Homo sapiens: one gene and its partners. The protein of the gene in region 4 binds, or shares a complex with, the protein of the main gene of each other region. Each region holds a gene or a part of one and is shown on either strand. Other genes may lie near its edges.

Region 1 (7,031 bases), on a different chromosome or scaffold from region 4:
AGACTCTGTCTCAAAAAAAAAAAAAAAAAAAAAGAAAGAAAGAAACAAAAAAGAAAAGAAAATATTTAAGGCATATGCAATAGAATCAAAGGGACAAAATATATCATTCATCCTTTTCTTAGTCCTTGTTCACACCCTTCCCCCACTCTGACAGCTATTTCAAACGTTTGCCACTCTAAAAGCCTGGTTCTCTCTCAGCTGATGTCCACATCTTATATTTTATCCATTCATTACACAAACATTTATTGAATTTTCATTATATACTAGGTACCATGGTAGACACTACATGAAAATGAGTATGACACAGCACCTGTCCTGATGAACTCCCAGACTAGTGGAAGAGAGAGACATTTAAACAAATAAATTAAAAGAACAGCATAAACTCTGGTAGAAATACGCATGGGGTGTCATGGAAACAGAATGGGTATCTTAATCAGCTTGGGGGAGGTATGATAAAAAGGTGACATGAGGGTTGGGCAAGAATGATCAGTAAAGGCTCTGTGTTAACTACAGCACTGGGGATGGAAGGGCCAGAAAGGGTCTGGAGGTCATTTCAGAACAGAATGAGCAACAAGAACAAAGGCACGGAAATAAGAAGTGGCCTGGTATGTGCAGCAAACCAAAGGCAAACTGGTATGGCTGGAACCTGAAGTATGACAAAGGGAACAGCCATGAGTCAAAGTTGGAAAGGCGCAGAGGCCAATGCATAATGAGCTGCGTAGGCCATGGTAAAAAGCTTAGATTTCATCCAGAAACGATGGGTTTAAAGCAAGAACTTAAACTGCATTTCAAAGAGATCACTCTGGAGGGGATCTGGGGCAGGAAAATCACTGCAATGGTCCAGGCAACAGATGATGAAGGCAATGATAAAGAGGGACGGAAGAGAGAAGACACAGGAGGCAAAATTAGTAAGACTAATTAGCAGCACTAATTGATTAGGTACACAAGGACAAAGAAGGAGGAGGCAAGTTAGAGAGCACAAGAGTAGGAGCAGGCTTACAGTAGAAGCTGATGAGTTCAGCTTTGAATACAATGCATTTGAAATCTCTCAAGTCTAAATCAATAGAGAAATCCAACAAACAGCTAAATACACCAGACCAAGATGCAAATACTGATTTGGAAATCATGTACATATAGGTCATAGTTGAAAACATGACTAGGTAAGAATCAGCCAGAGGGAGCACATAGAGTGAGAACAGCTAAAAATTATGGATGGAGCCCTGGGAAAGACTTAAGAGGTGCACAGAGGAAGAGGAGTTTGCAAAGGTGGCCAAGAATGATCAGAGAAAAGAACCAGGAGTAGGGTGTCATGGAAAACAATACAGGGGTGAATTTCAAGGAGGTAGTGAGTGGACCTCAAATCCCTTTAATTACCATGCATTCTCTTGGTCTTCTTATCTAAACTTCTTAAAAAGCCTGTATTCACTATTTGTTTCCTCACTTTTCATTCACTCCTTAATACATTAGAACCTGGCCATTGTTTCACTACACAACGGAACTAGCCCTTTCAGGTCATCACTGACATTCCTTGTTGCCAAATCCAATGACTCCTCCTTCCTCTTCCCCAAATCAGCAAACAGGTCCCACCAGCTCACCCCTGACCACATCCCCACTTCCTATTCTCTTACTAACCATCCTTACTACCACTGCCTGCAAGTCGTAGTTCAGACACTCATTACTTTCAGCCTGAGCTACTGCAAAAGCCTTGTATCTGTTCTACTTCCAATCTTGTACCTTTCAAATCCTTCATATTACTGCTATAATGGATTTGTCTATCTAAAATGCAGAGCTGTTTTTAATCCTTCCGTGTCTCCCCTTTACCTCTAGGGTGAAGACCAAGCTCCTCAGATAGGCTTCCAGGGCCTTCTGTGATCACGGTCTGCCAACCTCTCTCATCCATCTCACGCTTTATGCTATCCAACAACAGCAAATTACTTAGGGACCCCCACCACCTGGTAACACCATGGTGTCTCATAGCCTTATGACTCTGCACATATAGGACCCTCTTCCTTTAATATCCTTCCTTTCCTTCTTATCTTGGCTGGTTACCAACATCCCTTAAAACTCAGCTCCCACATTTCATCCGTTAGGAAGCACTTCCTGATCACTCACATCCTCCTAAGGCTCAACTTACTCTTCCTTTGTGCTCCCAAAACATCTTGAAAATCTTCTATAGTAACACTAACCAAACAGCGTTGAAACTGTCTGTCTTCTATTCTAGATTGAAAGTGAGCTCCTGGGCTCAGGGGCTATCTCTCTTTAATCATGGAATCCCTAGTACCTACTACCTAGCTGCTTACACTTATAACATGTATGCTAAGACTTTCCCTTAAGGGATGAGTGGAGTGAGTAACAGAGGGCTTTAAGAAGGGAAGCTTGGCCGGACATGGTGGCTCACGCCTGTAATCCCAGCACTTTGGGAGGCCGAGGCAGGTGAATCACCTGAGATGAGAAGTTCGAGACCAGCCTGGCCAACATGGTGAAACCCTGTCTCTACTAAAAATACAAAAATTAGCTGGGCGTGGTGCTCACGCCTGTAATCCCAGCTACTCGGGAGGCTGAGGCAAGAGAATTGCTTGAACCTAGGAGGCGGAGGTTCCAGTGAGCCAAGATCGTGCCATTTTGCACTCCAGCCTGAGCAACAAGAGCGAAATTCCGTCTCAAAAAAAAAAGAAGGGAAGCTTATTATAAATGGCATCCTCTCCAACCTTAGAAGCATGGATGGTATTCCAAAGCACCAAGGAAACCACTGTTTTTTACCTTGGAAATAAGGTCTTAAGAGAGTTACACTAATATGATAATACAAAGGACATATGAATAACAAACACCAAATCCTAAGCAGAATCAGAAAACAAATTGCAGGAGAACTCACAGTGGAAAGAGCTTTGGACCAGAGAATCAGGAACGCAGAGTTCTAATTCCAGCTTTCTCAGGGAAATTGCATGACTCTAGGCAAACTGCTTATTTATTGGGCCTCAGTTTCTCTTTTTTTTGAGACGGAGTCTTGCTCTGTTGCCCAGGCTGGAGTGCAGTGGCACGATCTCGGCTCACTGCAAGCTCCGCTTCCCGGGTTCACGCCATTCTCCTGCCTCAGCCTTCCGAGCAGCTGGGACTACAGGCGCCCGCCACCACGCCCAGCTAATTTTTTGTATTTTTTTTAGTAGAGACGAGGTTTCACCATGTTAGCCAGGATGGTCTCAATCTCCTGACCTCGTGATCTGCCCGCCTCGGCCTCCCAAAGTGCTGAGATTATAGGCATGAGCCACCGCACCCGGCCCCGTTTCTCTTTCAATTAAGAGAGGCTGGGTAATTATCTTATGGGTTTTTCCAACAGATACTATATATCTGTTCCGGAAATATTCCCTTGCAGCAGGCCGAAAAGAGACAAAACTAGAAAAGATGATGAAAGATGAATAACAAAAAGAAAGCAAGGGTGACAAAGGGAAATAAGAGAAGAAATCTAGGATAAAATCAGAACAAGAAGTGGAAAAAAGCAACTGAGAAAAATGAAGACAAATTAAATACTAGTAAAAAAAAACTAGGTCAGGGAGAATTCTAAGTTTTGGGTCCAAAAATTAAAAAACAAAAAACAAAAACTCGGTAGCAGGGAACATCTGTAGGGTTGTGCTATAAAAAGATCTACTTCTGGCTGTATGTATGGCAAATGAGTGTTCTGAAAAATCCTCCTTCTACCAAAAAGCCTACATACAGTGAACTGCAAACGGAACTAGTAAGCTAGCCTGTAACCACAGCTACCCTAAAGATATCTGCCAAGATGAGGAACTACAGTCAACTTATAGATATCTGCCAATATCAGAAAGAAGAGCCTTAAATTTTTTTATTCTGGAGTTGGGGTCTCACTATGTTGCCTAGCCTGGACTTAAACTCCTGGGTTCAAGCGATCTTCCTGCCTCAGCCTCCCAAATAGCTGGTACTACAGACACACGCCACCACACCTGGCTGTTGGATTTTGACGGCACCCCGAGGGACAGAAGACAACGCCTTAGGCCCATATAAGGTGGGGAGACAGATTCTAGACATTGCAGAGTAACCCGAACAGACTAACCTATCCTCAGTTAGCAACTATAAAACCTAGACAAAACAAAAAAAATAGGTATTTGAAGGTGTGGAAGAGTGACCAAAAGTAAGTATGAACTGGATGAAGTCTATATGTGAAAAGAGATTTGCTGGAGGGCAACTTCCCAAACAGCATGGCTCATGAAGGCAGAAAGCCACAGGCTTACTGGCTTGAGGAATTAGTGCAAAGTGGGCAGAACAGCTAGGAAATTAGGGGGGAAATCTTGGAAGAGAAGGAACTACAAAAGAGATGAACCTCAAAATCTACATACAAACCCTAGTCAAATCCTTGGCTAACTGTTAAATGACACATGTGCAGAGAAAATACCATCAGGCCAATTAAAAAAATGGCAGCTAGAAACTAAAAGAACTGAGCAAAGATTGTAGCTGCCGTCCACTGCAAAGGAGACAGTTTGGAGTTCAGCTATGTTAACTACCTGCTAGAATAAAAACTAACACACTTAAGAGGAATACAGTGTAACAGAACTCAAAGTCTCTACAGTGTATCATTCATGATGCGTAGTAACAATTTTAAAAAGTGACCAGACAGGTAAATAAACAGGAAAATGTAATACACACTGAAGAAAAAGCTGTCAATAGAAACCAATCCTGTGGTGAATCCAATGTTGCAATTAGCAGACAGGACTTCAAAGCACTAATTACATATCATAAATATTTTCAAGAAGAGGAAAATGTCTCATAATGAACAGATGGGAAATCTCAGCAGAGAAATGTAAGCTATTAAATGGAAATTTTAGAGTTGAAAAACAAAATAAACCAGCTAAAACAAAAAATCCACAATTGATAGTAACTGATAGAAAAATACAAACACAAAAAACCCAGAATACAGGCGATCTAAGATCTAAACACCTTGACCTCACTGACTTTTATAAAACACTACCTTATATAGCTACAGAATATACGTTCTCTTCAAGTGCAAAGGAAACATTCAGAAGATAGACTATCCACTGGGCCATAAAACACACCTTAACAAATTTCATTTTTATTATTGTTTTTTGATACATGGTCTCACTCTGTCATCCAGGCTGGAGTGCAGTGGTGCAATCACAGCACATTGCAGCCTCGACCTCCCTGGGCTCAGTGATCCTCCCACCTCAGCCTCCACAGTAGCTGGGACTATAGGCGTGTGCCACCATGCCCGACTAATTTTTGTATTTTTTTGTAGAGACAGGGTTTTGCCATGTTGCCCAGGCTGGTCTCAAACTCCTAGGCTCAAGCAATCCGTCTGCCTTGGGCTCCCAAAATGTTGGGATTACAGGCATGAGCCACTGTGCCTGGCCAACAAATTTCAAAAGATCAAAATATTACAGTATATTATCTGACCAAAATGGAATTAAATTATAAGTAAATAGCAGTAAGATATCTAGAAAAGTCCAAATATTTGGAATTAATGCACTCCTAAATAACCCATGGAGCAAAGAATAAACCAAAAGGATAATTAGAAAATATTTTGAACAAAATCCAACATACATTCCTGAAAACAAAACTCTCAGCAAAACAGGAATAGAAGGGAACTTTAACTCCATAAAGGATATCTACAAAAAACCTATACAGCTACAACACATTTAATAAATGTGTTGTAAAAACTAAATGTTTTCTTCCTGAGATTAGGAACAAAGCAAAGATGTCTGCTCTCACTACTTCTATTCAACATCTGCACTGAAGTGCTAGCTAATGCAACAGGGCAAGGAAAAGAAACAAAAAGCATCTAGATTGTAAAGTAAGAAATTAAACTGTATGCAAAGATGGAAGACCCTCTAGGTACAAAATCTGATGGAATCTATAAAAAGCTATTGTACAAAGTGAGCTTTACCTGAAGGAAAACAACTGACAATACAGTGTAACAGAACTCAAAGTCTCTACAGTATATCATTCATGATGTCCAGTAACAATTTAAAAAAGTGACCAGACAGGTAAATAAACAGGAAAATGTAATACACACTGAAGAAAAAGCTGCCAATATAGAAACCAATCCTGTGGTGAATCCAATGTTGCAATTAACAGACAGGAAGGACTTCAAAGCACCAATTACATATCACAAATATTTTCAAGAAGAGGAAAATATCTCATAATGAACAGATGGGAAATCTCAGCAGAGAAATTAAGCTATTAAATGGAAATAGCTCAAGCAATGGAAATGCCAGTGATAACATTTAAACTTTCAAGTGTAAATTAGAATTCTGAAAAACTGTGAACTCTTTAACTTCCCATTATTTAAAGAGTTTTGTGATAAGACCGGAAGTGATGTTAACAAAAGTGATTTTCTGATATTGTATAGTGGAAATATGTCAACATTTGGAAGGTCTGAACAACTCAGCAAACCAATATTTTACAAATGACCAATGCATGATGTTATAAAATCATGCATGGGTAAAAGATCCACTCAAAGTATTAAAAAAATTAATATAACAGTAAGGAAAGTTCTTTGATCTGGTTTCAGGTTCCACATAGCTCACCTTTAAGAAACCAGCACTTGTTGAGTTTTTGTGTAACATTAAGAAATATAATATGCCTTCTCTTTCTAACTACCTATGTGTGAGGCTAAATTTTCTTTCTATACTTCAACTGAACAAATCACAACAGACAAATACAGAGTCAAGTTACCTATTATTAAGTCAGACATTAATGAGATTTGCAAAAATGTAAATCAATGCCATCCTTCTGTTTTTTCACTTGGAAAATGTAATTATTTTTCATTTAAATATACAGTAATTATGTTAACATAATTAGTTTATTTTTTTTTGAATGAATAAATACTTTTTAAATGTCTGAGTTTTAATTTATAATATGGTAAATATCAATATATATAATCCACATCAACAAAAGCTTTTTGAGGTCATCAGTAATTTTTAAGAGCGTAGGCCAGGCACGGTGGCTCAAGCGTGTAATCCCAGCACTTTGGGAAATCGAGGCAGACAATCATATGAGCCCAA
Region 2 (7,031 bases), on a different chromosome or scaffold from region 4:
ATCCCACATACAAATCCCAAACCCCAGCGACTAGTGTTGCTTGAACCCAAGGGTTCATATGGACTCAAGACAATTTAGCTTTTGAGCTATGTTGTCGCACAGGTAAGGACTTGAACTTCTGGTCACAAGGTCAGTTGGGAAGGCCTGCCCTGGCCTACTTCCCAAGCCCACTGTTACTTCCTCTGCCGCGCTAGGGCGCTAATCTGGCTATTTTTACTCCCCAAGGACAAAGTAGTAAGGTCAAACCAGACCTAGAGGTACTTCCCCCAAGCCTTCCTACAAAGCAGGGCAGTGGTGAAACACAGATTTCAGCCTGGGGTTGGCGTCACCACCAGTCAAATGCGCCGTCTAATCCCAGTTTATGTTCGTGGTTACTGGGGCAGCCCAGTGATTGTAGAAAGAGACTATTTTAGTCCTTTTGCAAGAAGGGGCTAAAAGGAGATGAGGGAGGCTCAGGAGTGTTAAATATTCATCTCTTTCCTTGGGAAACAGCTTTATTTACAAAACAGGTCTAAAATAAGAACATGAAATGACAAGTCCTTGGGAACTGCGGGAGAGGTGGTTCTTGTGTGAAGCCCAGGCATCCAGACGTAGGGCCAAAAAAAGGGCTAGTGTGAGGGGACCTAAAACTTGAACTCCTTATATTTCTTGCTGCCCCCACGGCTGTCCTGGGGCTGAGCTTTCCGTTTTTTTTGCTGTATAGGGAGAAAGAGACACAGGTTAAGACAGGTTGAACCACCCCCGGACCCCCAAAACAAGGGTGGGCAGCCTGACATAGACATAGAAGTCTGTGGGAAAGGCGCTGAATCTGAATTCTCTTCGAGCTCCCTCTCAGACTTGGCTGAGTTCCTCCCCCTCATCGTCCTTAAAGAGGGCAGCCCACTGGAGGATTTCTAAGACTTCCAAATCTAAGGAAGCACAGAGCAGCAAGCAGAGGCCACCCTCACTCTCACCACTAGAGGGCACCATGCCACTGAAAACGGCAGGCCAGGGTCCCTGGCTCTCACCCAGCCCAGCGCCCCTGGAAGCGCCTACCTTCTGTTTGGCAGCGTGCTCAGCCACCATGTCACTGAAGTCCTCCTTCTCTACTTGAGCCTGCTGCTCCCGCACATGCTCCTCATACTTCTGGGTCATGGCCATAGGATCCAGCTCCAACTCTTCAGGCGCCAGCGCCACTTCCACACCTTGCAGCTCAGGAGCCGGGCCCTTCCGGCTCATAACCTGGAAAGGAGATCAGGGCCTGGTCATCTCCAAAGAGTCAGAGAAGCCCTAGCTTCTGCTGCCTTTCTCAGCCTCCAAAAGCAGTATCCTCCAAGTACTCACCGTGGACATGTCATAAATGTGGGTTGATCCCATCATGGCCCCTCCAACAGTGGCTGTTCTCTTCTCTGGCAACACAGTGAAGAGCTGAGGTGTCTCACTTCTGCGAAGGACAATGGGATCAGGCCCAAAAAGCAAGGGACAAAAGGGTCTCCAGAAGCGGAAACAAAAGATACAGGTGGCACCTCCACTCAGCGCCTTGGAGAGCTTCTGAGCTCCCCAAGGATGCAGCCTCTGCAGTTCTGCCCATGACAGAAAAGAATTGGGCGGGGGGGTGGCACAGTGCTGACTCCAGGGAACACAGATGGAGCTAAGGGGCCCCCTGAATCAAGTCAAGGGATCACAGACCAGGACTCCCACATGCACATAAGGGTCAAAAGGTCAGAGAGGCTCAAAGTTTCCAAAAGAACTTTGGTACAGAGAAGCTGGCAAGATAGAGCAGGCGACAACAGTTCCCACCCGAAGAATGTCATGCCTGGAGTTCTCATGTATGTAATTCACACTTCCAGGCCTTCCAACGCAAGAGCCATCCACAGCCAGTTTCACCACTAATTTCAAGGATTACACTAGGAACAAGAGCAAATCTACCACTATCACCCCAGACTATGCCCATCATCTCCACCTCTCCCGCTGGAAGAGGTGACAATCTATTGTCCACACAGGAGCCAGAGAAAATACCTTAAAACGGATGTCGGGTCCTGTCAGACCTTTGCTCAAAACCCTCTGAGGCTTCTGATCATTATCTGAATAAAATCCAAACTCCTTACCATGACCTAAAGGGTTCATAGCCTGGTCCCTTACCCAAGCCCTCCTCACTATACTCTGTCCACAGTACCCTTCTTTATTTTTCTTCCTTGAATATGCAAAGCTTGAGACTTCTGCTTCCTGACAAGGAGCAAGAGGAACCAGATACACCCTCCTGCCTGAAACAACCAAAAAAAATGGGCAAAATATATGAAACAGTGGTTTTCAAGACACTACACATGGGGCAACAAAGCACAGTGATTCCTGCGAGACAGGAAACAAATGTGATGAGCCCTTCAACTGCCCCAGCATACCACACCTGAGAGTTTGCAGGCCACAGAACAGAGGGGAGACTCATGGAGAGCCCTGAGGACTCCGTGAGTTGGGAGGATGAAACTGAAAGTCCAGGGAGATCAAGGCAGCTAGAGTTCACAGGATAGAGTACTGGAGAAAAGAGCAGAGAGAGAACTCGAGACCTACAGAAGGTCCTCAAGTATGCAGGGGAGTACTAAGCAGCACATGCCTACCAAGGACAGGGAAAGAAGCACCCAAAAGGATTCATAACAGCAACTGCTGCTCACTCAGAACTGGGAATAGAGTAACTCCCACTAGCCAGCCGGAAAAACCTCCTGATTCACAGGGTGGTGGGTAGAGTACACAGGTACTTGTGCCTCACAATGGGGAGGACTGCTTCAGTCCTGCCTCAAGAACCCCAAAACAAGACCTGAAAGGATCAAACTATCTCCATATAACTATATTCCCGAATGAGCTGAAGAAAATGTACAGGAATACAAAAATATCTTGGACCCAACAAGGTAAATTTCACAAAGCCTAGCATTCAATAAAAAATTACCAGGCACTGGACAGGCCTGATGGCTCACACCTGTAATCCCAGCACTTTGGGAAGCTGAGGCAGGATGATTGCTTGAGCCCAGAAGTTCAAGACCAGCCTGGGCAACACAGTGAGAACCTCTCTCAAAAAAAGAAAGGAAAAGAAAAAAAAATTACCAGGCGTGCAAAAGAGTAGGAAAATACAATCCATAATGAGGAAAATGAATCAACTAATGGCAGTCAACCCAGAAATGGCACAGATGTTAGAGTTAGCAGACAATACATTAAAATGTTGTTATAGCCAGGTGTGGTGGCTCATGCCTGTAATCCCAGCACTTTGGGAGGCCGAGGCAGGCAGATCACCTGAGGTTAGGAGTTCAAGAACAGCCTGGTCAACATGGTAAAACCCTGTCTCTACTAAAAATACAAAAAAATTAGCTGGGTGGGGTGGCGCACGCCTATAGTCCCAGCTACTTGGGAGGCTGCGGCACAAGAATTGCTGGAACCTGGGTGGCAGAGGTTGCAGTAAGCCGAGATCACGCCACTGCACTCCAGCCTAGGCAACAGGGCAAGACTCCGTCATAAAATAAAATAAAATAACATAAAAATAAAATATTGTTATAACTGCATTCCACATGTTCAAAAAGTTAAGAGAGAAAGAATAGATTTAAAAGACCCGAAATCAAACTTCTAGAAAGGAGAATTATATTGTATGGGATTACTGTTAGATCAGAAATTACAGAAGAAAATAATAGTAAACTTGAACATATAGCAATAGAAATTTTCTAAAGTGAAATACAAAGAGAGAAGAATTTCTTTAAAAATGAAGAGCATCAGTGAGCTCTTCATTTATTTTTTCATTTATTATTTCATTAATAGAGGAATAATTTGAGTTCCCAAAGGAAAGAGAAGGGAACAGAGAAAATATCTGCAGAAATCATGACAAAATTTTCCCCAAATTAATAAAAACTAAAAACCCAGATCTAAGATGCTTAAAAAACCCCAAGCAAAGAAACATTCAGAAACTACACCAAGGCACATTGTAGTCAAATTGTTAGAACTAGTGATAAAATCTTAAAAACAGCCAAATAAAAATGACACATTATGTACACAGGAACAAAGGTAAGAATGACAGCAGTTTTCTCACTAGAAACAATGCAAGAAAGAAGACACTGGAGCAACATCTTAAAAGTACTGAAAGAAGGCTGATGCGGTCACTCACACATGTAATCCCAACAAGCTGGGAGGCCAAGGCAGGCGGATCACTTGAAGCCAGGAGCTCGAGACCAGCCTGGCCAACATGGCAAAACCCCATCCCTACTAAAAATATAAAAATTAGCTGGGTGTGATGGTATGCACATGTAATCTCAGCTACTCGGGAGGCTGAAACAGGAGAATCGCTTGAACCCAGGAGGTGGAGGTTATAGTGAGCCAAGATCACACCACTACACTCCAGCCTGGGCGACATAGCAAGATTCCATCTCAAAGAAGAAAAAAAAAAGTGTTGAAAGAAAAAAGATTGTCAACCTAGAATCCTAAACCTGGCAAAGATCTTTCAAAAATGAAGGCCAAATAAAGAATTTTTAAGACTACTCAAGCAGAACAAATTCAAAACCAGCAGACCCACAATACAAGAAATGTTTTTTTAATATTTTGTAGAAATGGGGTCTCACTATGTTGCCCAGGCTGGTCTCAAATTCCTGGAATCTAGCAATCCTACCACCTCAGCCTTCTCCCAAAGTACTGAGAGTACTGAGATTACAGGCTTAAGCCACCACGCCCCCTAACTTAAGAAATGTTAAAGGAAGCCCTTCAGGCAGAGGAAAAATGATATCAGATAGAAACCTGGATATACACAAAGAAATGAAAGAAACAAAAATGGTAACTACATGGCTTCATGCATGATTCTTATTTAAACCTCCCTAAAAGATAACTGACCATTTAAACAAAAATAATAACTATATAGTATAGGATTTATAACATATGTAAAAGTGAATATATGACAATATAGTGCAAAAATTGGGAGGAGAGAAATGAAGTATACTATAATGGCTCTTAATACTATCTGGAAGCAGTGTAACATCAAGAGAAGGTAGATCCTGATAAAGACATGATCTATAAACCCCAGAGCAACAACTAAAATAACAAAGCAAAAACTTAACAGCTAATTAACCAACACTGGAGATAAAATGAAATCATAAAAATTGTTCAAGTAATCCAAAAGAAGGTAGAAAAACAGGAAAAAGGGAACAAAGAGCAGAATGGATAAAGAGAGGGTCATTTCATGATAAAGGGGTCAATTCATGAAGACCTAACAACACTACACATTCAACTACCTAAAAATGGAGCTTCAAAATACTAGCCCATCCCTGTCTCAGTGCCTTTGCACTTGCTTGCATTTACTGTTACTTCTGACCCAGATGATCCTGTGGCTGGCGCTTTTTCATTCGGGTCTTAGTTCAAGCACCACCTCCCCAGTGAGGCCTTCCCAAAGGCCTCCCTGCCACCCCATCCCATTACCCAGTTTCCTCTGCTTCAACATCCTTATCTACATCTGAAAGTATCTTGTTCTCTGATTACCAGTTTACCTCAACTGCTGACTCCTCACTGCCTACAGTAGTGCCTGGCAGAGAGTTGGTTCAATAATTGTTTAAAAAAGGATGAGGGAGAAAGGAACAACAGTCAGCCAGCCAGCCAAAGGGAAGTGAAGGTCCTCCCCTCTCAGCCCTGTCTGGTACCCTTACCCGTCCATCGCCTCCTCAATCTTCTTCTTCCTCAGCTCAATGAGTTCAGGGGTCTCCATTCCAGCAGGCACTGATGAAAAGCCTCCAGGAGTGATAAGGCCACTGTAAAGAGAGGAACAAGCTCTGGAGTAAAGAGAAGGACCCCAAAGATAGCCCACTTCCAAGAGGCATTCTCTGCTTCCCCCACCTGTCTGCAGGGGTAATAAAGCCTGTCTCATCTGGTTTGTCTTCATCACTTTCTTCCTCTTCCTCTTCTTCTGAGGATTCTTCATCAGATGGTTCCAGTTCCCCCCAAGGGGTCCGATCAATCTCTTCTTCCTCAGTCTTGGTCTGAAAGAGATCACTTTATCATTCAACAAATGTTTTCTAAGTACCTATTATGTGCCAGGCTGTTTTAAGCTGAAGGGGTGTAAGAGTCAAAACACAATAATCCCTACCTACCTAGAGCTCAAATTCTAGTGAGGAGCTTACATTAACATCTCAGGAAAATGTATGCCCTTTTCCAGGCTCTGCTGTGTCAGAACACACAACTCCCTGATAATGAAGCTATAAACCAACAATCTAACCTTCATGACATTAAGTAAAACCAAGATCGCTAGTACATGGCCCATACCTGAAATTCAGCAGCATTGGTTCCAAACACGTCCCCATAGAGCGGTTTCCCAGTCTCATCCACTGGAGGTTTGCCCCAGCCACCAGCATGGTACCCAAAGGAACAGCTCTGCAAGACAGTGAGCACAATCAGTTCACTCCTTAGCTGCAAAAGAAATTCTGAAGCCCTAGAGAAAAGGCACACTCAAAAGTACAGAGCTGATACTTGGGAACTCCGGAAATTATGACTGCAGAATTAAATCAAATGTTATGAAGCATTAGAAACCAAAATTAATAAACAACTAAAATCTGGAGGCAACAGGATAAGGAGACAGGAGGCAGAAAGTATGCTAATAACTTCTGTCATGGCAGAGTCTTTACTGTCTGAAACCAAAATACGTACATTGAAAACATGACTTCAATTTCTTATTGAGTTTTCCTAACTTTGGAAAGCTAGCTTGTTCAGAATCTATTTATCTTAAGGGGCAGAAATTTCTATCTAAAATTTAACAATACTACTGTTTTACTTTAATGACTCATCAATTTTTTTAATGCTTATTTTAAAATAAGAAATTTGAAGACATTCTTGAGATAAAATTATTTCTGAGAGACTGAAGTGAAGCTAAAAAAAAATTATTTCTTTTTTCTTTTTTTTTTTTTTTAAAGTAGAGGTGCGGTTTCACTATGTTGCCCAGGCTAGTCTTAAACCCCTGGCCCCAAGGGATCCTCCCACCTCAGCCTCCCAAAGTGCTGGGATTACAGGTGTTGAGACACCACATCTGGCTGAGATAAAATTATTTC
Region 3 (6,752 bases), about 120 Mb from region 4:
TGCAATCTCTGCTCACTACAAGCTCCACCTCCTGGGTTTACACCATTCTCCTGCCTCAGACTCCCGAGTAGCTGGGACTACAGGTGCCCGCTACCACGCCTGGCTAGTTTTTTGTATTTTTAGTAGAGATGGAGTTTCACCGTGTTAGCCAGAATGATCTCAATCTCCTGACCTCATGATCCGCCTGCCTCGGCCTCCCAAAGTGCTGGGATTACAGTCATGAACCACTGCACCCAGCTGTAATTAAATTTTTAAATTATATTTACATACTTTTTTTTTCTGATGAGCAGTTTGTTTCTGGCATTGGCCCTTTCTGAATTGCAATGTCCTTTTTTTCTCTTTTCCTCTCCACTGTTCCTTTAAACTTTACATGTGGTCAATGGTGCACACCTTTAATCCCAACACTCTGAGAGGCTGAGGTGGAAGGATGGCTTGAACCCAAGAGTTCAAGACCAGCCTGGGCAAGATGGCAGGACCCTGTCTCTATAAAAAAAATATTTAAAAAATTAGCCAGGCATAGTAGTGTGCACCTGTAGTCCCAGCTACTTGGTAGGCTGAGGCAGAAGGACCCCATGAGCCCAGGAGTTTGAGGATATAGTGAGCTGCAATCATGCCACTGCTCTCCAGCCTGGGCAACAGAGCAAGACCCCATCTCTTTAAAAAAAAACAAAATCACATGTGAAAGCGTGGTATGAGGAAAGCCTATCCCTCTCTACCTGCTGGGGGTTGGCAAGATTTGACAGGCCACCTCACCAATTGGCCCCAAGTCAAGAAGCAGCTGTGTTACATAAGGCTTCTGGTTCCTGCCAAATGTTGCCATGCCAAAGTAAGGAGAGGGCAAGGAACCCCTCTAAATTTAGCATCTAATTGGCAGCCATCAAGAGTGAGACCTTGAAGTGTAAACCCTTGGAGATCTGGGATTCTGTCTTTTATGTGCCTGGGAAATGTATCCTCAGAAAACTCCTTTTCAGCTTGGCCTGGATTTGGCAAACTTCTCCTTTCTACTAACTAATAACTTACAGATCACCTCCTCATATTCAAACTTGAAACTCTGAATAGTCCTATAGGCTACGGGAAGGCTGACCAGTCTCTCGGCCAAGAGTGATTTATTCAGCCCATTGACTTCATGAGATTCTGTTTTGATGATGAGTGTACTTATAATAACAATAGCTATAATTAATTCTGTGTGCCAGGCACTTTGCATATATTACCTCATTATTTTTCTCAACAAAGTTATGAGATCAATATTTTCTCCATCATTGTAACTAAGAAGCTTAGAGAAGTTAAATGATCTGCAATTATTTAACTTCTCTGAGCTAAGCTTACTTAGCTAGTAAATAGCTGCACTGAGACTTGAACCCCAGTCTTTCTGACTCCAGAGCTCATACTCTTTCACTATGCCATACTGCCCTTTATTGAATTAATGAGGACCAGCTTTTTGTGCATGACAAGAAAGAAGACAGTAGGAAGGGCATGAGTATCAGAGCCATGGAGTCTAGACAGATGGAGTTCCTGCTTCTCTTCCATCTTGTTCAGAACTTACTTTCTATGGAGCCTAGCTGATGACAGCTAAATAGTATAATTAAGAAGCTCTTGTTTATTTGCATTTTTGACCAAAAGTGTAAGTTGGATTAGAACTAGGCATTTTATAATCCAGTACTGGTGAATGTACCATTTTTATGATCAAGTACTGGTGAGTTGTTGATTGCACAAAACAAAATATGTAAATAATTTTAAATACCTGCTTCAAAACTACCAGCCCTTTATATTTACCAACAGATGAATTTTACATCATCAGATTAAGATAATAGCTCTATACTTTACCCTTTAATGACTTAAGCAAGATTGAGGGTCAAAGGAACTTTTTTTTTTTTTTTTTTTTTTAGCCAGTACATTTATGGAGGGTAAGTGAAAGTAAAATACGAGAGTATATTAAGAGCTCCAGAGTCTTGGGTTCAGCTCTGTAGTTTCTGTGGCTACTGAAGAGGTGGTCAGGAACATAGGAACCCCCTGCTGGGCTCCTGGTCACTTCTGTCTGCTCCATGGCAGGAAACCTTCAGCACAGGACATCAAGGCAAGCTTGAATAAGAAAAACAATTTCTTCTTCCTAAGCCATATCATATCAGTTATACAGAAGTACTACTTTGGGACACAGTCTTCAGGAGAGCCTAGATGAGCTCATAAAATCTCAGCAGTTCACTCAACTTGCCCTTCAAGTTTTACTTCAGTTTGATAAGGCTATAAAGTCATCATTGGCTCAGAGGATTAGGAACAGAGTTGATTTCAGGGGCTCTCTAAATACATACAGATTGTGCCATATGCCACGCATGGTGGCTCATGCCCGTCATCCCAGCACTTTGGGAGGTGAAGGCAGGAGGATTGCTTGACGCGAGGAGTTCAAGACCAGCCTTAACAACATAGGAAGACACTGTCTCTACAAAAAAAAAAAAAAAAAATTAATTGAGAAAAACAAAAAGATTCTGTGATAATATGTAGACTTTTGTGAAAATTATGGCCTGTGATGATAAAAATACTGGCTCTAATACTATAGAATGAATAAGGAAAAAATCACATTTTTATGACATCTTCTGTTATTATTCATCACTTTTGAAGAGAAATGTAGAAGTTTTTTTTTATTTATTCTAGCATTGCAGAAAGTACATTGTGTTATTTCAGTATTTCAGTAGTATTTCAGTAGTATTCAGAGTATTTCAGTAGAAAGAAGCTTAAAACTCTATAGCCTCTTACATTACCTTTATTATACAGCATGAAAAAAAACATAATTTTTTTTTTCTTGAGACAGGATCTCACTCTGTCACCCAGGCTGGGGTGCAGTGGTGCCATCTCAGCTCACTGCAGCCTCTACGTGCTGGACTCAATCAGTCCTCCCACCTTGGCCTCCCAAGTAGCTGGGACCACAGGCATGCACCACTACACCTGGCTAATTTTTTTGTAGAGATGGGGTTTTACCATGTTGTCCAAGCTGGTCTCAAGCTCCTGAGCTCAAGCCTTGGCCCCCCAAAGTGCTAGGATTACAGATGTGAGCCACCATGCCCAGCCTCATAATTTTTTTTAATGACAAATAAAAATTTTGTCTTCCTAAGAACATTCTCTAATAAGCTCTTTTTTTTTGAAGAGTTCTAATTTTAGTTACGCCGTTGATGAACTGTATTGCCTTGGAAACGTCACTGTGCCCCAGTTTTCTTATCTCTAAAATAAGGAGTTTAGAGAAGCTGATTTCTTTTTTCTCCTCTTTTTTTTTTTTTTTTTTTTTTTGGAGATGGAGTCTCACTCTGTCACCCAGGCTAGAGGGCAGTGCCACGGTCTCAGCTCACTGCAACCTCCACCTCCCAGGTTCAGGCAATTCTCCTGCCTCAGCCTCCCGAGTAGTTGGGATTACAGGCACACGCTACCACTCCTGGCTAATTTTTTGTATTTTTAGTAGAGACTGGGTTTCACCTTGTTGGCCAGGCTGGTCTCAAACTCCAGACCTAAGACGATCCACGCACCTCGGCCTCCCAAAGTGTTGGGAGTACAGGCATGAGCCACCACTCCCAGCCTAGACAAGCTGATTTCTCTTGGCCCCTTCCCATTCTAGAATTCAGTATTCCTTCTGCCTGTTAATTCAATGGAAAAGTTGGCTCAAGTGAGTATTAGGTTAGCAAACACTATAAATATTTTATATACCAGACACTTCCTGTCCCTTCTCAGGTCTCTGTTTGAATACAGTACTAAAAAGTTCATCTGGATCAGCAGCCTAGGCTCCCACCCTGCCATGAGTTGGGTTACCTTTTAGATTTCCTGGATGAGTATGAAGTTAACTGTAGCCTAATTATACTAGACACTCTGAAAAAGGTTTTTGTGTGATGTCTGCAGGAAAAACTTTCTTTTCTTCCCTGTGGTGTTTCCCATTTCAGAAGCTTGTATTCAAACATGCCAGTCATGCTTATATTTTTAGTTATTCTTATTTCTCCACCCCATTGCTCAAGAGGTGAGTCCATGTCTTATTCAAACTCTGTGTTCCTAGTTTCTAAAAGCCAGAACATGGTTCAGTAAATGTAAGGTAAGTAAATAATTGTTGCTTCCATTTCCTTTAAAAAGCCATGCCTCTGTCCTACCCCCAGCTCTAAGAGGACTTACCCTTGCTTTTCATGATACCTTACAGGTTTGTTTATGTGTGGGATACCACAAGCAGGAGAATATTGTATAAGCTGCCCGGCCATGCTGGCTCCATCAATGAAGTGGCTTTCCACCCTGATGAGCCCATCAGTAAGTCTGTCCCAACGAGGGGGAAAGGGAAACTGGAAATCTCCCCGTAGGGATCCTGGGAATAGAGAGTCAAAAGCGGGTATCTGTTTTATACGAATTTCCATGCAAACAGCCTTTGGGTGTTTTTGTTGTTGTTGTTGTTGGTTTTTTTGTTGTTGGGTTTTGTTTTGTTTTGTTTTTGAGACAGTGTCTCGCTGTTTTGCCCAGGTTGGAGCAATGGTGCAATCTTGGCTCACTGCAACCTCTGCCTCCTGGGTTCAAGCAGTTCTCCTGCCTCAGCCTCCCAAGCAGCTGGGATTACAGGCACCCACCACCATGCCCAGCTAATTTTTTTTTTTTTTTGTATTTTTAGTAGAGACGGGGTTTCACCGCATTGGTCAGGGTGGTCACGAACTCCTGACGTCCAGTAATCCACCCGCCTCAGCCTCCCAAAGTGCTGGGATTACAGGTGTGAGCCACTGTGCCCAGCTGCAAACAGTCTTTATGTGGGTATCAATGTCAGTCTCACCATTGCTCATAAGTGGTGAGAGTAAGAGCAATGCTCCATTTTCTTCTTGATCTCAAAGGGAAGTTGGTAAGTCTAATTTTTTTTTAAATTTACTTCCATCAAGTCTGTTTCAATGATGTATTTGATTAAAAGAAAGATACTTTTTTTTTTTTTTTTTGAGACAGAGTCTCACTCTTGTCGCCCAGGCTGGAGTGCAGTGGCACGATCTCGGCTCACTGCAACCTCTGCCTTCCCAGGTTCAAGCGATTCTCCTGCCTCAGCCTCCCAAGTAGCTGGGACTACAGGCACCCACCACCACACCTGCCTAATTTTTGTGTTTTTAGTAGAGACGAGGTTTCACCATGTTGGCCAGGCTGGTCTCAAACTCCTGACCTCTGGTAATCCACCCGCCTCAGCTTCCCAAAGTGCTGGGATTACAGATGTGAGCCACTGCGCCCGGCCAAGAATGATACTTTTTAATATTTAGATATAAATTTCAGCTTAAAATTTTTTGGCTGGCTAAACCAAATAATTTCAGCCTTGAATTAAAGGAGAAACTGTAACTTTCTCCAGGGCTAAGTATAACAAGCAGAAGCACATTTACAAAATGACTGGCACAGCCATAGATTCCTCTCTTCTAGAATGACTGGGAAAGTCTTTTTCTTGGGGTTTGACTGACAAGGGATGTCAGTATTTAGTGTCTGATAATGTATTTCCCATAGTACAGTCATCCTCATGATATTAGAGGACTTGGATTGAAAAGCCAGGCTACAATTTCCTGTGGATGGTGTTTAGGAGGGGAATTTAAGCTAAGTCCAATTGCTCTTTTATACCAGAATTGGCTCTTGACACAAGAGCCCTTGAGCACCAAGTCTCCTTGAGCCTTCATTATTTCTAGTTATCTGTTCTTTTTACCTCAGTTATCTCAGCATCGAGTGACAAGAGACTGTATATGGGAGAGATTCAGTGAAGATATGGACTGGAAGACTCCAAGGCCGCTTGTCTTTGAGACCTCAGACTGCATAAGTGATGCCAAATGTTGGATGTCCAGGCTAGCACCCTCCCTTCAGATGACCATTGCTAGCAAGAAACAGGAGGCGGTGGCCATATTCCAAAAACCACTTCTGTCCCATTTCACCAGGATGACTAAGGCAAGCTCCCTGTGGCCTCTAAAAACCACCTGCCAGATTTCAGGGACTGTTTTTTTTTTTCTTTTTCTTTTTTCCTGTTTTCTAATGCAGGCCCAATGTGACAAATTTGTTGGTTGGGATTTTTTTTTTTTTTTTGTAACTGGCTTGTATGATATTTTCTTTCTGTATTTCTCTATATCATTTTGTATTAAAAGCCAAATAGATGCCTTTTTACAAGAGCCATGTGGATTGGATTTATTGCTGTCTTTTTTTTGAGGCTTGATTGCTATAAATCAGAATAGAGCATGATGTGGCCACAGAATACAATTCATTTAAACTTCCAAGAAGCTGCTCACTTGTTTTTTTTTCCCCCCTTTTCTGTGTTTTTAGGTTTACTTACTTCCATGAAAATGACAAAGAATAATTATCAGTAACAATACTTTTTTCCTACTAGAAGGATAGCAGCCAGGAGGTGATAAATAAGTTCTAAAAGAACCTGGTTTTGCCAGACGCGGTGGCTCATGCCTGTAATCCCAGCACTTTGGGAGGCCAAGGCAGGCGGATCACCTGAGGTCGGGAGTTCAAGACCAGCCTGGCCAACATGATGAAACCCCGTCTCTACTAAAAACACAAAAATTAGCTGGGTGTGGTGATGCACATCTGTAATCCCAGCTACTCGGGAGGCTGAGGCAAGAGACTCACTTGAACCTGGGAGGCGGAGGTTGCAGTGAGCTGAGATTGCGCCACTGTACTCCAGCCTGGGCGACAGAGCAAGACTCTGTCTCAAAAAAAAAAAAAAAAAAGAACCTGGTTTTGTGTACTTGCATCTGATCTTTAATGAACAGAGCCCGTATTTACTCTGCCTC
Region 4 (7,839 bases):
GAAAGTTAAGTTCTCAGCACCCATTGTAATTTATTTGTGAATGAATGGGAAAAGGGTATCAGTCCAAGGGGAGATCAGGTGGTTCCTCCTCATCAGAGTCAAACTCAACATTTTCATCTTTTACCCATCGACCTCGTCCATCTGGGATCCATCCAGAGCTGGAAACATCAGAGAAAATAGCATCGATCAGGAAAGAGGCTTATTAAGAAGTTAGTGGTGAGCTCACACCAGTAATCCCAGCACTCTGGGAGGCCGAGGCAGGTGGATCACTTGAGGTCAGGAGTTCGAGACCAGCCTGACCAACATAGTGAAACCCTGTCTCTACCAAAAAAAAAAAAAAAAAAAAAAAAAAAGTTAGCAGTGAGAAAAAATTGAGAGCCATGTAAGTTGGGTGGCTAAAACAAAACGAAACCAAAGATGGAAAACAACAATGGGAGTCCGGGTGCGGTGGCTCACACCTGTAATCCCAACACTTTAGGAAACTGAGGCAGGTGGATCACCTGAGGTCAGGAGTTCGAGGCCAGCCTGACCAACATGGAGAAACCCCGTCTCTACTAAAAATACAAAATTAGCCGGGCGTGATGGCACATGCCTGTAATCCCAGCTACTCGGGAGCCTGAGGCAGGAGAATCGCTTGAACCCAGGAGGTGGAGGTTACAGTGAGCCGAGAGCGTGCCATTGCACTCCAGCTGGGGCAACAAGAGTGAAACTCCATCTCAAAAAAAAAAAAAGGAAAAACAATAGCTTTGAAACAAGGGTGTCAGAGAGAAAAGAAAATCTGAGGAAACTGATTAGGCATACTCACCTTCGAAGGGTGAGATAATGGTCCAGGGCTCGTCTTCTTGTGGGGCTCATGGGTGCAGGGGCTGAGACAGTTGCTGACTCCTCGGCCTGTGGGCCAGCCGCAGGTTCAGGTTCCCTACTGATCTTCCCACTTTGGAGTTTGACCTCTGAGGGTGGCATAGGGGAAAGGGAGACAGAGGGACCAGGGGCTTCTGGTCTAGGTAGAGAAGAATAGTCTGTAAAAGCAGTAAGGGAAAGGGCCAACTCTCCTATGACTCCCAACCTCTTAAAACAGTGCTTCTTAAACTATATTTCTCAAGATATTAATAAGTTCTGCATACAAAGGATTTCAGAATCATGAATTTGGGAAAGGCTAGCTTAAAATTTTACAAGTTTTTTTTAATCTTAAGACTTTGTATAGTTTTTAAAACTGTTATTCTTCAAGTAGAATTACAAAGTGCCATTTCCCAAACTTTATTTAAAAATCACAAAATTCTCCTTTTCTTTTTCTTTCTTTTCTTTTTTTTTTGAGATGGAGTCTCACTCTGTCACCCAGGCTGGAGTGAAGTGGTGTGACCGTGGCTCACTGCAACCTCTGTCTCCCGGATTCAAGCAATTCTCCTGCCTCAGCCTCTTGAGTAGCTGGGATTACAGGCACACACCACACACCCAGCTAATTTTTTACATTTTTGGTAGAGACAGGATTTCACCATGTTGGCCAGGCTGGTCTTGAACTCCTGACCTCAAGTGATCCACCCACCTCAGCCTCCAAAAGTGCTGGGATTACAGGCGTGAGTCACCGCGCCCAGCCAAAATTCTCCTTTTCTTGAAACACTAAGTAACATCTCCAGAACACTAGTATTCCTCAGAATACACACTGGAAAACTCTTTTAGAGCCATCTGTCTCCTTCTGAGCCTTCCTACCTCTGGCTTTCCCGTCCCATACCTGTACTTCCGGCGGCAGCAACTGTTATAGTGGGGAGCTCTGTGCAGAGCACTCTGGGTGATAAGTCGTGTCTGAGTTAGCAGAGGAGCCTGGTAAGGAGATGGGAGACAGAGTCAGAGCCTTCAGCCCTCCGCCCTTCCAGCCTGGTGTGTGCAGCAGGGTCTTGCCTAGAACACACTCTCCACTCTCTGATTACCTCAGCTTTGGTTTCTTCCCTTCTCAATTCATTCTGATGTTTTGGATTCTGCTTTCTTTCCTTTCCCGGCTGCTTCTTGCCATAGAAAAGCTGCAAGCCTGAGGAGAAAGGGAAACAGAATTAAAAGCATAGCACCAAGAGTGGTGTGCAGAGATTTCGAGGGTTTATTCCCCATCCCGTCTTCCCCCTAACTTACTGGACAGATGTTTCTTGCCTGCACGGTGGGCAGTCAGCATGGCCAGGGTGTCCAGTACCGGTCGATGGGGGCAGATGGCACAAGCAAAGCTGAGCAGGGGTAGAGAAGAGGATAAGTGGTCCAGGGGAAGAGGGTTGGGCCCGTCCCTGCCATAGGTCCCACCCTGTCCTAGCAGTCTTTGCAAAACCCAACTCCCTGGTGACCCAATCTCCACTTCTTCCAGTCCTCACTGGCCGCCAAAGAATCCTAGGTACTCCTGCTGTCCTAATTAATAACAAAAGTTTGTTGAAGCCAGGCGTGGTGGCATGCGCTTGTAAACCCAGCTAATCGCGACGCTGAGGAGGCAGGATCACTTGAGCCCTAGAGTTCGAGGGCAGCCTGGGCAGCACCGCGAGACCTCCGTCTCAAAGGAAAAAAAAAAAAAAGTCTATTGAGCCTCTAACCGCAGAACCCTCAGGCTTGAGCCACTCCTTGCTCTTACCGTCCATCCCGAAGCATCAGCGCCTCATCCTCTGGAATGTAACTGGCTAGGAGGTCCCCGACTCTTCTTTTCTGCAGGGAGTAGGGGAAGAAATCCGGACGGGATCAGCGGGATAGGAGAGAGGGGTGGAAGTGAAATTATAGAAATGAGGAGTGAAATGGAATAAGGACCCTGGGGAGAACAGCGATCATAGACCGAAAAAGGAGTCACTACACAGCTCTAAGTCGCCTGGTTCTCTCCTGCACCCCCGAGTTGTTGCCAGAGCAATGAAACAAAGCTCCTTCCCAACCTTCAGGGAGCGACTGAAGCGGCTCCAGATCCTCTCCGCTCACGCTTACTTTGAGCACATTGAGTTGACTCCAATCGTCTCCTTCCCTCTTGAAAGACATCACGACTGTGAGTCCCAGAAGTGATAAATTCTCTGTTCCGGTTTCGCCACTCCTCCAGGCCACCGTAGCAAGAGCGGGACAGCGCCTTCTCTTTTTTCCTTCTCTTCCTGTCGGCCTCCGTACTTCCGGGGACGCACTTCCACGCATGCATTGCGCGATCCGGAAATCCACTCTCTGGTGCTCGGAGGGAACTGCATTTCCTATGGTGCCCTGCGACTCCGCAGACGCGGAGCCTTTTGGGAAATGAAGTCTTTTCTCAAAGACCTTGCCGCTCAACTGGATCCAGGCCCTTGCATCTTGGCGGATCTGAGGCGTTTGGAGGGACAACAACCTAGATGTGGAGCCGAAATTTGAGGGTGTGACCTATCTTATGCGGAGCGGACCTTTGAGGATCTCTGAGTGGAAGGTGTACTACAAATTCTTGCAATCCTCACGCTCTTCGTCTGCGGCGACAGTTCACCTGGGGTGGGCCTGATTTGTTCCTGACTCTAGCAAACAAACCCCGGGACCGGGGAGAGCTGGGATGTTGGAGCGCCCTGAGGCCAGGCTACTTGGGGGCAAACTGAGGAAAGAGTGTTGAGGATTATTTCTAGAGTTCAAAGGTCAGAGGTCAATGTAGCGAGGAGTTGTGGGGGAGTCCAAAGTCGGAGGGGTGCTTAGGGGAGAATTAGGGAGGGACTGAATACTCAAGGGACAGATTTGTGGATAAGTAGCTTGGAGGGAGGAGAAACCGGGAGGGGGCAGATGGCGTAGTGCTGGGGAGGCGGGGACACAGGGGAAGAGAGAGGGGGAAAGGAATCCCCTGAATATTCATTCCCAGACTTCAGGCCTGTCAGTCGCAGTCTCGGTCGTACCTCCCCTAGTTGCAACCTTAGCTGTTGGCAGGGTGAAGAGATGGCTTCCCCGTCTAGACAGCCCCCGCCAGGGGGGTCAGGACTGCTTCAAGGGAGCCGGGCTCGTTCATATGGAAGCCTGGTGCAATCGGCCTGCTCCCCAGTGAGGGAAAGACGCCTGGAGCATCAGTTGGAGCCCGGAGACACCCTGGCTGGACTAGCACTCAAATATGGGGTGACGGTGAGTTTTCCAGGATTGGGGTGAAGACAACAGTCAGGAGGGATTTAGTCCTGAGAAGAATGTAGTGGCCCTTCTAGGTAACCTCCCCTGAAATGTTCCTAATGTGTTGCACTCTGTTCTGCCTTTATCTTTGTTTTCCCATCACAGTGTTGCACAAGTCCTGCCCTACTATTCCAACGGAGAGGAACAGCTCCTATTTTATTATGCCAGACACTGTGCTGAGGGCTTCACATACGTTAGCTCATTTCACCCTCACATCTGTATCAAGTATACATTTATCGTTCCCTTTTGGCAGATGAAGAAACTGAGACTTGGATTGGTTAACCAGTTTGGCTAAGGTCAAATAATGAGCGTCAGATTTGGGATTCAAACAGGTCTGTCTGACTCTATTAACCACACAGAAAATTTTATGTTGAGAGTGATTAAACGTTTACAGCAACTAATGGAGAGCTGATTTTTAGTTCTCAGTTCCTAAAGTGCCCACCTCTCCTTGCTCTTGGTTCCTCCTCAATGCTCTGCCTTCTTTCCAGTAAGGTGGCCTCCTTTGTGCAAAACAGGTACTCTACACCAAGTATTTCAGGTCATGCATGGGGGAAATTGGATAGATGTAAAAATGTACAGCATTGAAGTTGATGGGGTTACTCCCCCTATCCCTGCCCCTGTTTTCTTGTTCCATCTCACTCAAACAAATGTTGAATTTAGCCAACATTTTTATGCTTGCTGTATTTAAAGCACTGTGATAACTTTTCTGGGAGATAGAAACTTAAACTATATGGTTGCTGTCCTCATGTAATTTATGGCCTAATGAGAAATGAACAGGGACACAAATAATGATTACAAGTGACAGAATGTGGTGAGTTTGTAAAGGTATTAACAACGAATAGGGGTCAGGCATGGTGGCTCACCCCTGTAATCCCAGCACTTTGGGAGGCAGAGGCAAGTGGATCACCTAAGGTTACGAGTACGAGACCAGTCTGGCCAACATGGTGAAACCCTGTCTCTACTAAAAATACAAAAATTAGCCGGGCGTGGTGGTGCTCACCTGTAATCCCAGCTACTCAGGAGGCTGAGGCGGGAGAATCGCTTGAACCCAGGAGGGGGAGGTTGCGATGAGCTGAGATCGCACCACTGCACTCCAGCACTCCAGCCTGGGCAACAGAGTGAGACACACACACACACACACACACACACACACACACAAAGATAGGAAATCAGAAAAGATTAAATTTCAGTTGGAAAGGGGCTGTGGTGGGCCAGGCGTGGTGGCTCATGCCTGTAATCCCAGCACTTTGGGAGGCTGAGGTGGGTGGATTGCTTGAGCTCGGGAGTACAGGACCATTCTGGGCAATGTGGTGAAACCCCATCTCTACAACAAATACAAAAATTAGCCGGGCATGGTGGCATGTGCCTGTAATCCCACCTACTGGGGAGGCTGAGGCAGAGGATCACTTGAGCTGGGGAAGCGGAGGTTTCAGTGAGCCGAGATCGCGCCACTACACTCCAGGCTGGGCGACAGAGTGAGACCTTGTCTCCAAAAAAAGAAAGAAAGAAAGAAAGAAAATACGAATACACTATATCTGTAGTTTCTATATTTCATTATCTAATTATGATAATAATTACATAATTATAAGTAATAGTTTTTAAATAAAGCATTAATGAGCCCCTGCTATGTGTCAAGGTCTGTAGGATGCTAATGACTTCCTGGGGATACAGAGACAGCAAGTCACAATCCTTGCCCTTAAAGGACTTATAGGGTTTAGGCAAAGCAGATATTTAAAGAGGTGAATAATATTATAGTAGGGTTATGTATTATTATAGCAATATTTACAGTATGCATTGGGAGCCCTGAAGAAGGTAGCACAAAGGGAGTGATAGTTGATGAATACAAGTTTTCCAAGCAGAGAATGGGATAGTAGGGGGGTGGGAGCATTTCAGGCAGAAGTAACAGCATGAATAAAGTGTGAAAAAGATCATGGAATGTTCAAAGAAAAATAAAAAGTTCAGGATAGCAAAATGTAGAGGTGGCAGAGGGAGATTAATCTAGACATTTCCTTTGGGAGCTGGATTGAGAAAGCCCTTGAATGCTAATTTGGTTTTTATCTTTTAGCCAGTGCGGAGCCATAGGTGGGTAGTGGGTTAATCAGATTTATTTTTTTAGAAAGATAGATGCCAAGAGGAGGATGAGTAGAAATAGAGCGAGGAAGGCCAGTTAAACTGTTGCAATAACCCCAGATGAGAAATACTGAGGGTCTATTTTAAATCTTTGGCAGTAGGAAGGTGAGACCAGATGTGAGAGAGATTTTTGAAGCAGTTTTGTTGACCACTTGGTATGGTGATGAAAGGCAAGTATTAGTTAAGGATGACATTGATGTTTCTACCTTGGGAGGCCAGGCAGATAGATGGTGATGCCAGTCACTATGTCCAGTGATGAATAAATAGGTCAAAATAAATATTTATTAATGACATTGTTAATAGTATAGTGTGAAAAGCATTCTCAGAAGCAGTGAAAAGACCCAGGATTGTCATTCTAGCTCTGTCATTAACTTGATAGATAATTTTAGGAAAGTAGCTTAACCTCTCTGAGCCTCAGTTCCTTCATTTTTATTTATTCATTAATTTATTTATTCATTTATTTTTAATTTTTTAATTTTTAGAAATGGCGTCTCACTATATTACTCAGGCTGGACTCTAATTCCCGGGCTCAAGCTATCCTCCCTCCTCAGCCTCCTGAGTAGCTGGAATTATAGGCATCAGACATTGCGCCTGGCTTGCACAATAATTTTTTAAAATGTAAGGGGGCCCTAAGACCAAAAAGTGTGAAAACCACTCATCTATAGAATAGAAATAATGTCAGCCCTTTGTACTTTAGCTTGGTTGTTATGGAATCAAAGAAGACTCTGTACAGTCACTTTAAAAAGCTCAAGATGTAAGATTGATCATTATTACTGTCCTTAATTTTGGTGACTTTTTTTTTTAAGATGGAACAGATTAAACGTGCAAACCGCCTTTATACTAATGACTCCATCTTCCTGAAGAAAACCCTCTACATCCCCATCCTGACAGAGCCCAGAGACCTGTTCAATGGTTTGGACTCTGAGGAAGAGAAAGATGGAGAGGAAAAAGTACACCCAAGTAACAGTGAAGTTTGGCCACACTCAACTGAGAGGAAGAAACAAGAGACAGGAGCAGGACGTGCCAATGGTGAAGTCCTCCCCACACCTGGCCAGGAAACCCCCACGCCCATCCATGACCTCTCTGCCTCTGATTTCCTTAAGAAGCTTGATTCACAGATCAGCCTGTCCAAGAAGGCTGCTGCTCAGAAGCTGAAAAAAGGGGAAAATGGGTGAGTCTTGAATGGTTCCTTATAAGTTCCTCCCTAGACTCCTCCATCATTCCTGTCTTACCTAACCACAAACACAAGTAAGTAAGGACAGTGCCAACAGAGGCAAGGTGATACCTTTCCCCCATGTGGCCCCAAGATAATGAGCAGAGGTGATGGCTGCTGGCCTGGGTAGAGGCAGTGGAAAACTGGGTTCTGTGTTCTTATTGGAGTCAGACAGTTAACTATTTTTTTTTTTTTTTGAGACGGGGTCTTGCTCTGTTGCCCAGGCTGGAGTGCAGTGGCGCGATCTTGGCTCACTGCAAGCTCCGCCTCCCAGGTTCACGCCATTCTCCTGCCTCAGCCTCCCGAGTAGCTGGGACTACAGGCGCCCGCCACCACGCCCGGCTAATATTTTGTATTTTTAGTAGAGGCGGGGTTTCACCATGTTAGCC

Evidence for each region.
Region 1: SCNM1 (region 4) and BUD13 share a complex: the UniProt entries of both Homo sapiens proteins name them as parts of the minor spliceosome.
Region 2: SCNM1 (region 4) and SF3B2 share a complex: the UniProt entries of both Homo sapiens proteins name them as parts of the minor spliceosome.
Region 3: SCNM1 (region 4) and SNRNP40 share a complex: the UniProt entries of both Homo sapiens proteins name them as parts of the minor spliceosome.

What each region holds. Positions count from the first base shown.
Region 1 is NC_000011.10:116,748,969-116,755,999, forward strand, and holds part of BUD13 (BUD13 homolog), read right to left. Parts: intron 1-7,031. UniProt on the Homo sapiens protein: Involved in pre-mRNA splicing as component of the activated spliceosome. As a component of the minor spliceosome, involved in the splicing of U12-type introns in pre-mRNAs.
Region 2 is NC_000011.10:66,062,338-66,069,368, reverse strand, and holds the end of SF3B2 (splicing factor 3B subunit 2), read right to left. Parts: intron 6,361-7,031; coding exon 6,253-6,360; intron 5,970-6,252; coding exon 5,827-5,969; intron 5,742-5,826; coding exon 5,640-5,741; intron 1,424-5,639; coding exon 1,324-1,423; intron 1,222-1,323; coding exon 1,036-1,221; intron 696-1,035; coding exon 624-695; 3' UTR 61-623; downstream 1-60. UniProt on the Homo sapiens protein: Component of the 17S U2 SnRNP complex of the spliceosome, a large ribonucleoprotein complex that removes introns from transcribed pre-mRNAs.
Region 3 is NC_000001.11:31,259,046-31,265,797, reverse strand, and holds the end of SNRNP40 (U5 small nuclear ribonucleoprotein 40 kDa protein), read left to right. Parts: intron 1-4,165; coding exon 4,166-4,269; intron 4,270-5,676; coding exon 5,677-5,726; 3' UTR 5,727-6,230; downstream 6,231-6,752. UniProt on the Homo sapiens protein: Required for pre-mRNA splicing as component of the activated spliceosome. Component of the U5 small nuclear ribonucleoprotein (snRNP) complex and the U4/U6-U5 tri-snRNP complex, building blocks of the spliceosome.
Region 4 is NC_000001.11:151,161,305-151,169,143, reverse strand, and holds the start of SCNM1 (sodium channel modifier 1), read right to left. Parts: upstream 3,001-7,839; 5' UTR 2,992-3,000; coding exon 2,941-2,991; exon of another isoform or gene 2,892-2,940; intron 2,674-2,891; coding exon 2,603-2,673; intron 2,211-2,602; coding exon 2,122-2,210; intron 2,024-2,121; coding exon 1,926-2,023; intron 1,819-1,925; coding exon 1,730-1,818; intron 1,001-1,729; coding exon 806-1,000; intron 159-805; coding exon 59-158; 3' UTR 1-58. Other genes in the region: TNFAIP8L2-SCNM1 protein, read right to left, coding at 59-158, 806-1,000, 1,730-1,818, 1,926-2,023, 2,122-2,210, 2,603-2,619; LYSMD1 (lysM and putative peptidoglycan-binding domain-containing protein 1), read left to right, coding at 3,886-4,065, 7,044-7,408. UniProt on the Homo sapiens protein: As a component of the minor spliceosome, involved in the splicing of U12-type introns in pre-mRNAs. Plays a role in the regulation of primary cilia length and Hedgehog signaling.